Homo sapiens: one gene and its partner. The protein of the gene in region 2 interacts with the protein of the main gene of each other region in a pairwise test. Each region holds a gene or a part of one and is shown on either strand. Other genes may lie near its edges.

What was found.
Region 1: the proteins of SSX2IP (region 2) and SSX2 interact in binary tests that used the Homo sapiens proteins (3 or more experiments, as listed by UniProt).

Annotation. Positions count from the first base shown.
Region 1 is NC_000023.11:52,705,165-52,708,914, forward strand, and holds the start of SSX2 (protein SSX2), read right to left. Parts: upstream 2,015-3,750; 5' UTR 1,948-2,014; intron 606-1,947; 5' UTR 586-605; coding exon 517-585; intron 79-516; coding exon 1-78.
Region 2 is NC_000001.11:84,648,835-84,652,584, forward strand, and holds part of SSX2IP (afadin- and alpha-actinin-binding protein), read right to left. Parts: intron 3,164-3,750; coding exon 3,049-3,163; intron 1,694-3,048; coding exon 1,528-1,693; intron 1-1,527. UniProt on the Homo sapiens protein: Belongs to an adhesion system, which plays a role in the organization of homotypic, interneuronal and heterotypic cell-cell adherens junctions (AJs).

The sequences.
Region 1 (3,750 bases), on a different chromosome or scaffold from region 2:
CACATAGAAGATTTTCTCCGAGGCTTTCATCTTTTCCCACTCTTCCTTAGAGAAGTATTTGGCAATATCATCGAAGGCCTACAAAAAAAAAAAAAAGGAATTATGGCAGGGACTCAGCTAGGCATGTCTGCCATTCAGCTGGAGCCGCTTCCTGTGTGCTAGATCTGGGAACTGGGGATGATAATCCTTCCTGGTTGATGCCATGGCTAACTGACAGAACACGAGGGACCTTCCCTAGCTTCACCCCTGCCACACAGTAGGGCTTTAATGCTGCTGGCTGGCTCTCTTCCCACCTTCCAGAATGGACTGAGAGTCACCAGATGTAGTGCAAGGTCACAGACTTGTCTCCAGGGATGCTAGGTGATGACAGAGCGAGGGTGGGAGGCTCCCAAGGGTCCAGATCTCCCCCGAGACCCTGCTCCTTGTCTCCAGTATCTCTGTCCTCCCCTCCTCAGAAACCGGGTCACCCCACACTGTCCCCTGGGCCACTACTCTGCTCCCTCCAGGTCACCTCACCTTTTGGATCTTCTCTGGTATTTGAGCACCAACCGTGGGTCTCCTTGCAAAGGCGTCGTCTCCGTTCATGGCACCGGGAGCAGTCTGACCTGCAAGAGAAATAGCCTGAGTCTTTCCAGCCACAGCAGCTTTGATCCTGTGGAGGGAGAAGTCAGTGAAGGCCGGCCACCCTCAGTCACCTGGAATCAGCTGCTGCATTTCTCCATCCGGGGCTTATCTGTCCCTGAGTAAGGATATGGGGAGAAATCAGATGAAAACAGGGAACCAGGGGTCTCTGGGAGAAGTATTGATAGGGAATGACAGGTTTCCTATGGGCAAAGCAGCCTTGAGTCTTTGGGAGGGGGTTGGCTAATGTTGTTAGTAGTTTCCCTGGAGCTAGGCTTACCCTGAAAGATGTACGGACCCTTTTTGGGGAGGCAGGGACATGACTGTGTAATTTTATTCAGTGGGGGCATGCTGACACCCCCACTCAATAAATAAAGGAAGGGAAGTTAGTCCCAGAGATAACATGGTCTCTTTGGCGATGGATCTGATCAGGCAGAGGGATGGGGGGTTCTGTTCTGTTGAAGAGAAATGAGCATCGCTAATATGAACGTGTTCAGAGGCTATTACTCGGTGATTTGTAAATTATTAGAAGGAAGAGAGCTAGAATTTCTGAGACTACAAGAGCCCGCCATCACTTAGAGAGAATGTGGGGCATTTCAAGATGCAGCAATCAGCCAGGCGCCGTGGCTCACGCCTGTAATCCCAGCACTTTGGGAGGCCGAGGCGTGCAGGCCGCTTGAGCCCAGGAGGTCGAGACCCGGCTGGGAAACACAGCAAAACCCCCGTCTACAAAATACACAAAAAGTTAGCTGGGGTTGGTGGAGCAGGCCTGTACCATCCCAGCACTTTGGAAGGCCAAGGTGGGCGGATCGCCTTAGCCCAGGAGCTTGAGACCAGGCTCGCAAACGTAGCAAAACCATCTCTACTAAAAAAAACAAACAAAATTTAGCAGAAGCGGGGTGGTGCGCGCCTGTAGCCCCAAGGCCTAGGCGAGAGGCTCACTTGAGCCCAGGAGGAAAGATTTGAGTGAGCTTTTTTGGTTTTTGTTTTTTCAGACAGGGTCTCGCTCTGTTGCCCAGTCGGGAGTGCACTGGCGTGATCATGGCTCACTGCAACCTCCGCCTCTTAGGTTCAGGCGATCCACCAGCTGTGGCTTCCAAAAGTGCAGGGATTACAAGTGTAAGCCACCACGCCCGGCCCAAATTTCTTAAGTTACTACAGAGTTCCTAGGAAAAATCCCGTACCTGAAAAAGTTAGAAACTGACAGGAAAGATTCGAGATGGCGGCCTGCCTCATATACACTCCTTATTAAAACTAGATAGCAAATGCACCGCGGAGGAGGGGAGGGGTAGGAAGAATGGAAAAAGAAAATCGGCGTATGCTTACTCTGATTTTGGAAGAATCCAAAGAGAAAATCAGACCGTGCGTACTCTGAGTATGGAAGAATCGAAAGAGAGAGAAAGTCAGAGCATGCGTACTCTGAACTTAAAGTAGCCAATCCCAGGGGATGCTTTAGGCGGGAAAATTAGAGTCTCCACCCCCACTTTGAGAAGGTTCCGTCCCTGGAGCCGGGACTGATAGAAGCCACATCCGCTTCGCTTGTTCCGCCTACTGTTCTGACTTCTAATTGGCCAGATGGAGTTCACTAACTGCCCTGATTGGTCCATCATCCTTGGGCAGTGACATAGCAGAATAATGTCTCCTCCTCCAGCCACACTTTGTTGCCACTGCGAAAAAGTGGGTGGTCCTCAGGCGCCGTCAGATTTTGAACTCTCTGAAGACCGTTCCTGGATCTTGGGTTAAAAATCTGGATTCTAGTCTGAACTGTGGGAAGAAAAAAATAGTCAATCTGTGATTTTTCTACTTGAAAGACACGATGTTTTCCAAACTAGCACATTTGCGGAGGTTTGCTATACTTAGTCGTGGCTTTCATTCTTCAGTGGCTTCTATGTCTGTTGCCACTGAAAAAACAGTCCAAGGCCCCGCAACCTCTGCTTACATTTTTGAAAGGGAATCTTAAGTATGGTGCGCACAATTACCATCCTTTACCTGTAGCCCTGAAGAGAGGAAAATGTATTTACTTATGGGATGTGATTGTGGTATTGGTTACATCTGCCTTGGCCAATCCTCCAGCCTCCGTCTTGGGACTACAGGCGCGAACCACCCTACCCCCACTAATATTTTTTATTTTTTGATTTTTTAATAGAGAAGGTTTCGCTGTGTTGGCCAGGCTGGTCTTGACGTCGTGGGCTCAAGCGATCCTCCCACCTCGGCCTCGGGACTACAGGCATTCACCACCCAGCCCACGCTTTTTTTTTTTTTTTTTTTTAAGTAGAAACCAGGTTTTGCTATGTTGGCCAGGCTGGTCTCATCGTCCTGGGCTCAAGGGATCCTTCCGCCATGGCCTCGAGACGACAGGCATGCACCACCCTGCCCACGCTTTTTTTTTTTTTTTTTTTTTTAGTAGAAACCGTGTTTCCCTATGTTGGCCAGGCCGGCATCAAGCTCCTGGACTCAAGGGATCCTCCCATCTCAGGACTACAGCCATGCACCACCCTGCCCAAGCTATTTTTTGTTTTGTTTTGTTTCGTTTTAGTGGAAACCGGGTTTCGATATGTTGCCCAGGCTGGCCTCAACCTCTCAGGCTCAGATGATGCTTCCACCTCGGCCTCAGAACTATAGGCGTGTGCCATTCTACCCCGCTCATTTTTATTTATTTATTTATTTATTTATTTTTTAGGAGAGGCAGGCTTTCGCTTTGTTGGCCAGGCTGGTATCAAACTCCTGGGCTCAAGCAATGCTCCCACCTTGGCCTCAAAACTACAGGAGTGAGCCACCCCGCCCACGCTATTTTTCTGTTGTTCTTGTTGTTAGCAGAAATGGGGTTTCGCTATGTTGGCCAGGCTGGCCTCGACCTCCTAGGCTCAAGCAATCCTCCCGCCTCGGCCTCGGGACTATGGGCTCACACCACCCCGCCCCCACTAATATTTTTAATTTTTCTATTAGAGACAGTTTCGCTATGTTGTCCAGGCTGGGCTCTACCTCTGGGACTCAAGTGATTCTCCCGCCTCGGCCTTGGGACTACAGGCATGCACCACCCTGCCTTTTGCTATGTTTCCCAGGTTGGTCTTGACCTCCTGGGCTCACTCAATGATTTGAACCCGGGAAGTGGAGGTTGCATTGAGCTGA
Region 2 (3,750 bases):
TACTGGTCTAACTTCAAAATAGATCCCAAATCCAAGCATTTCTTCCTTCATATTATGACCCTAGTCCAATTACCATTGTCTTTCGTTTCCACTCCAATAGTGCCTCCTAACTGGATTTCCTGGTTTATATTACAGACTCCTACAATCTGTTTTCAATATTATAAAACAGTAATCTTTTTAAAACTTAAGACTTTTTTTCACTCTCTTGCTTAAAACTAGTGTTTTTTCTATTCCCCTTAGAACAATATTTGACCTGCAAATGCACACTAAAATATTCTGTAAATGAAATCCCAGATGTGTTGGGGCTGGGGTGGAGAGAGCAAGCAGAGTGGGATTATATATGAACAATATTGATCAGAGTTAATAATTGCTGAACCTGAGTCATAGGTACACGTGGGTTCACGATCTTATCCTCTCTGTATATTTGAACTTTTACATCTCTCCATCCTCATCTCACACCTCTAGGTCTTGGTCACCATTGCAAATGTATGAGGTGTGTCCCACCCTCAGGGTTCCTACACTTGGCTAGAGTGCTCTTACCTAGCTCTTTTTCATCCCCTCTAACATTTACTTGGAGTCCTAATCCCCCCACCTCTTAAAAGTCAACTACAACTTATAGTGTGTTCTCCTCCTTCTTTTAAAAGCTTCCTTTCTTGTTTTAAACTCCATCTATTTCATAATTCTTGGCCCAAGGGCCAGCTGGCTTCTTCGACACTTAGTTCCACTCCAGTCTCTAACACAGGCCGAGTTTGCTTCAGCTCTGACTGTTTTCCAAGGCCATTATCTCCTACTTTTAATTAAGAGCAAAGAGATTACCACCATACTTTCCAACTTACCCCTCTGATCTTTTCTATTCCTCTCTGTCTTACTAGGAATGTTCTACCTGCTTCCTCTTCTTCGTTTAAAACTAATCTTGGAATTGGCACTGAAGCAGAGTATTGATCTTATCTTAGAAAATGATATAATAACTTGAGATACAGGAAAACACCAAAATGTAGCAATTAAGAGCAACATATGGGTTTCCCAGGGTGGAGAGCCATGTTTTTTTACACTGTCATCCTTGGGCACAAATCTTTTTCACTCAACAGGAACAGGCTTTTCTCAGTTCTTTGCCCTTCAACAACAATAAAATGGGCATGCCGGAAAAAAGTGTTAAGATATGTACTCTACAAAAACTGTCAAAACAATATCCTTCCATTTAATACAATTAAAGTGCTTAAAATATTAACTCCTATAATTAAGACTACATTCTAAATTGTATCTTAAATGTGAAATAAAAAGACACACATCATATGATTTACCTCCAAGAAGACAACAGATCTACCTGTTCACTAGTGTATTTCCAGCATCTAGCACAGTGTCTATATATACTGGACACTCAATATTTGTAGAATGAATAAATCATCTACTAAATTCCTCTCCAAAATCTCTATTGTTGCTAATACTACAGACATGCCACCTTTCCCTTAGCAGTGCAACTTTAGCAATTTTTAGAAACACGTGAAAAGATCACCTATAGACAAATACCTATGTTCAGATATGCAGGAACGTGTCTGGCAAAAGTCTGAAGTGGAAGGTGAAGCAGGAAGAGATTTAGTAAGTTTAGACATGCAAACTGGAGACCCATTAGACACACTGTGAGGCTTCTTTTGCGGCTGCCTCGAGTGCACTATAAGATTGTCCCAATCAGAACCTGTTGTAAAACAAGTAAGAGAAAAAGGCAGTACATATGGTGAGGCATTAAATATAGTGAAGGTAAATCATCAGGATGATTCATCTGCGGTTCTGAGTGAGGAAAGAGATGGAACAAATTCAAATTAATTATCATTAATCTTGCTTATCTTTGTTGCATAGTCCACCCATGTTTAAAAGGATCTTTTTTTTTTTTGAGATGGAGTCTTGCTCTGTCACCCAGGCTGGAGTGCAGTGATGCGATCTTGCCTCACTGCAAGCTCCACCTCCTGGGTTCACGCCATTCTCCTTCCTCAGCCTCCCGAGTAGCTGGGACTACAGGGGCCCGCCACCATGCCTGGCTAATTTTTTTGTATTTTTAGTACAGACGGGGTTTCACTGTGTTAGCCAGGATGGTCTCGATCTCCTGACTTCGTGATCCACCTGCCTCGGCCTCCCAAAGTGCTGGGATTACAGGCGTGAGCCACCGTGCCCAGCCAAAAGGATCTAGTTTTAAAAATATTTCTAGGCTGGGTGGGGTGGCTCACACCTGTAATCCTAGCACTTTGGGAAGGTGAGGCGGAATGACTGCTTAAGCCAGGAGTTTGAGACCAGCCTGGGTAGTATAGCGAGGGCTTGTCTCTACAAAAAAGTTTTTAAAATTATCTGGGTATGGTGGTGTGTGCCTATAGTCTCAGCTACTCAGGAGGCTGAGGCAAGGAGGATTGCCTGAGCCCAGGACGCTGAGGCTGCAGAGAGCCGAGATGCACTCCAGCCTGGGTGACAGAGCAAGACTACATCTTGAAAAAAGAAATTCTCAATGTAAATTTTCAAAAACTTCGCATTATTACAAACTCACAACAAAAGTTACTTTGGGCATGCACAGTCCCCCTCTCATCCTCACTTTCACTACAGTAAATAAAATATTAAAGTTGATTTTTAGGCCAGGCGCAGTGGCTCATGCCTAATCCCAGCACTTTGGGAGGCTGAGATGGGTGGATCACCTGAGGTCAGGAGTTCAAGAACAGCCTGGCCAATATGGTAAAAACCCGTCTCTACTAAAAATACAAAAATTAGCCAGGCGTGGTGGCACATGCCTGTAATCCCAGCTACTCAGGAGGCTGAGACAAGATAATCGCGTGAAGCTGGGAGGCAGAGGTTGCAGTCAGCCAAGGTCACGTCACTGCACTCCAACCTGGGCGACAGAGCAAGACTCCGTCTCAAAAACAAACAAAAAAAAGTTGACTTTTAGTTATAATTAGAGAGCTCTAATTGGTGATTTCCAAAGTTTTGTATTAATAATATGTAGTATTTTGTAATATGTAAATAATTTTATTTATATGCATGTTCAAATTAAAGAGTTTATAAAGTACTCACTTCCTGAGAAGGCACTGAAAAGTTTCACATTTTCTGAGTTCTGGTGGTCAAAGGTAGTCATATTTAGAAACTGCTGCTTTAACCAACTGGCTCTTTCTTCTTCAAATGCCTTTCTCTACCATAAACAGCCAAAGAAATAATGATCAATATTTCAACATCCACACAGTTGCCATTTCACATGATTGCTCTAGCTATCTTTGTTTGCTCTCTGGCTATCTATTCGTACTTCTTATGTCAAATGAGTTAACCTAAAAAACTAAAAATAATTTCAGCACTCGTCTGTAATCCCAGTATTTTGGGAGGCTGAGGGTTGGTGGAGCACTTGAACTGAGGAGTTCCAAACCAGCCTAGGCAACACGGCAAAACCCTGTCTCTACACGAAATACAAACATCAGCTGGGCATGGTGGCACAGGACTACAGTCTCAGCTACTTTGGAGGCTGAGGAGGGAGGATGGCTAGAGGCTGGGAAGTTGACGCTGAAGTGAGCCGAGATAGCACCACTGCACTCTAGCCTAGGTGACACGGCAAGACCGTATCTCCAAAAAAAAAAAAAAAAAAAAAAAAAAAGCCGGGCGCAGTGGCTCATGCCTGTAATCCCAGCACTTTGGGAGGACAAGGTGGGCGGATCACAAGGTCAGGAGTTTGAGACCAGTCTGGCCAACATGGTGAAACCCCATCTCTACTAAAAATACAAAATTTAG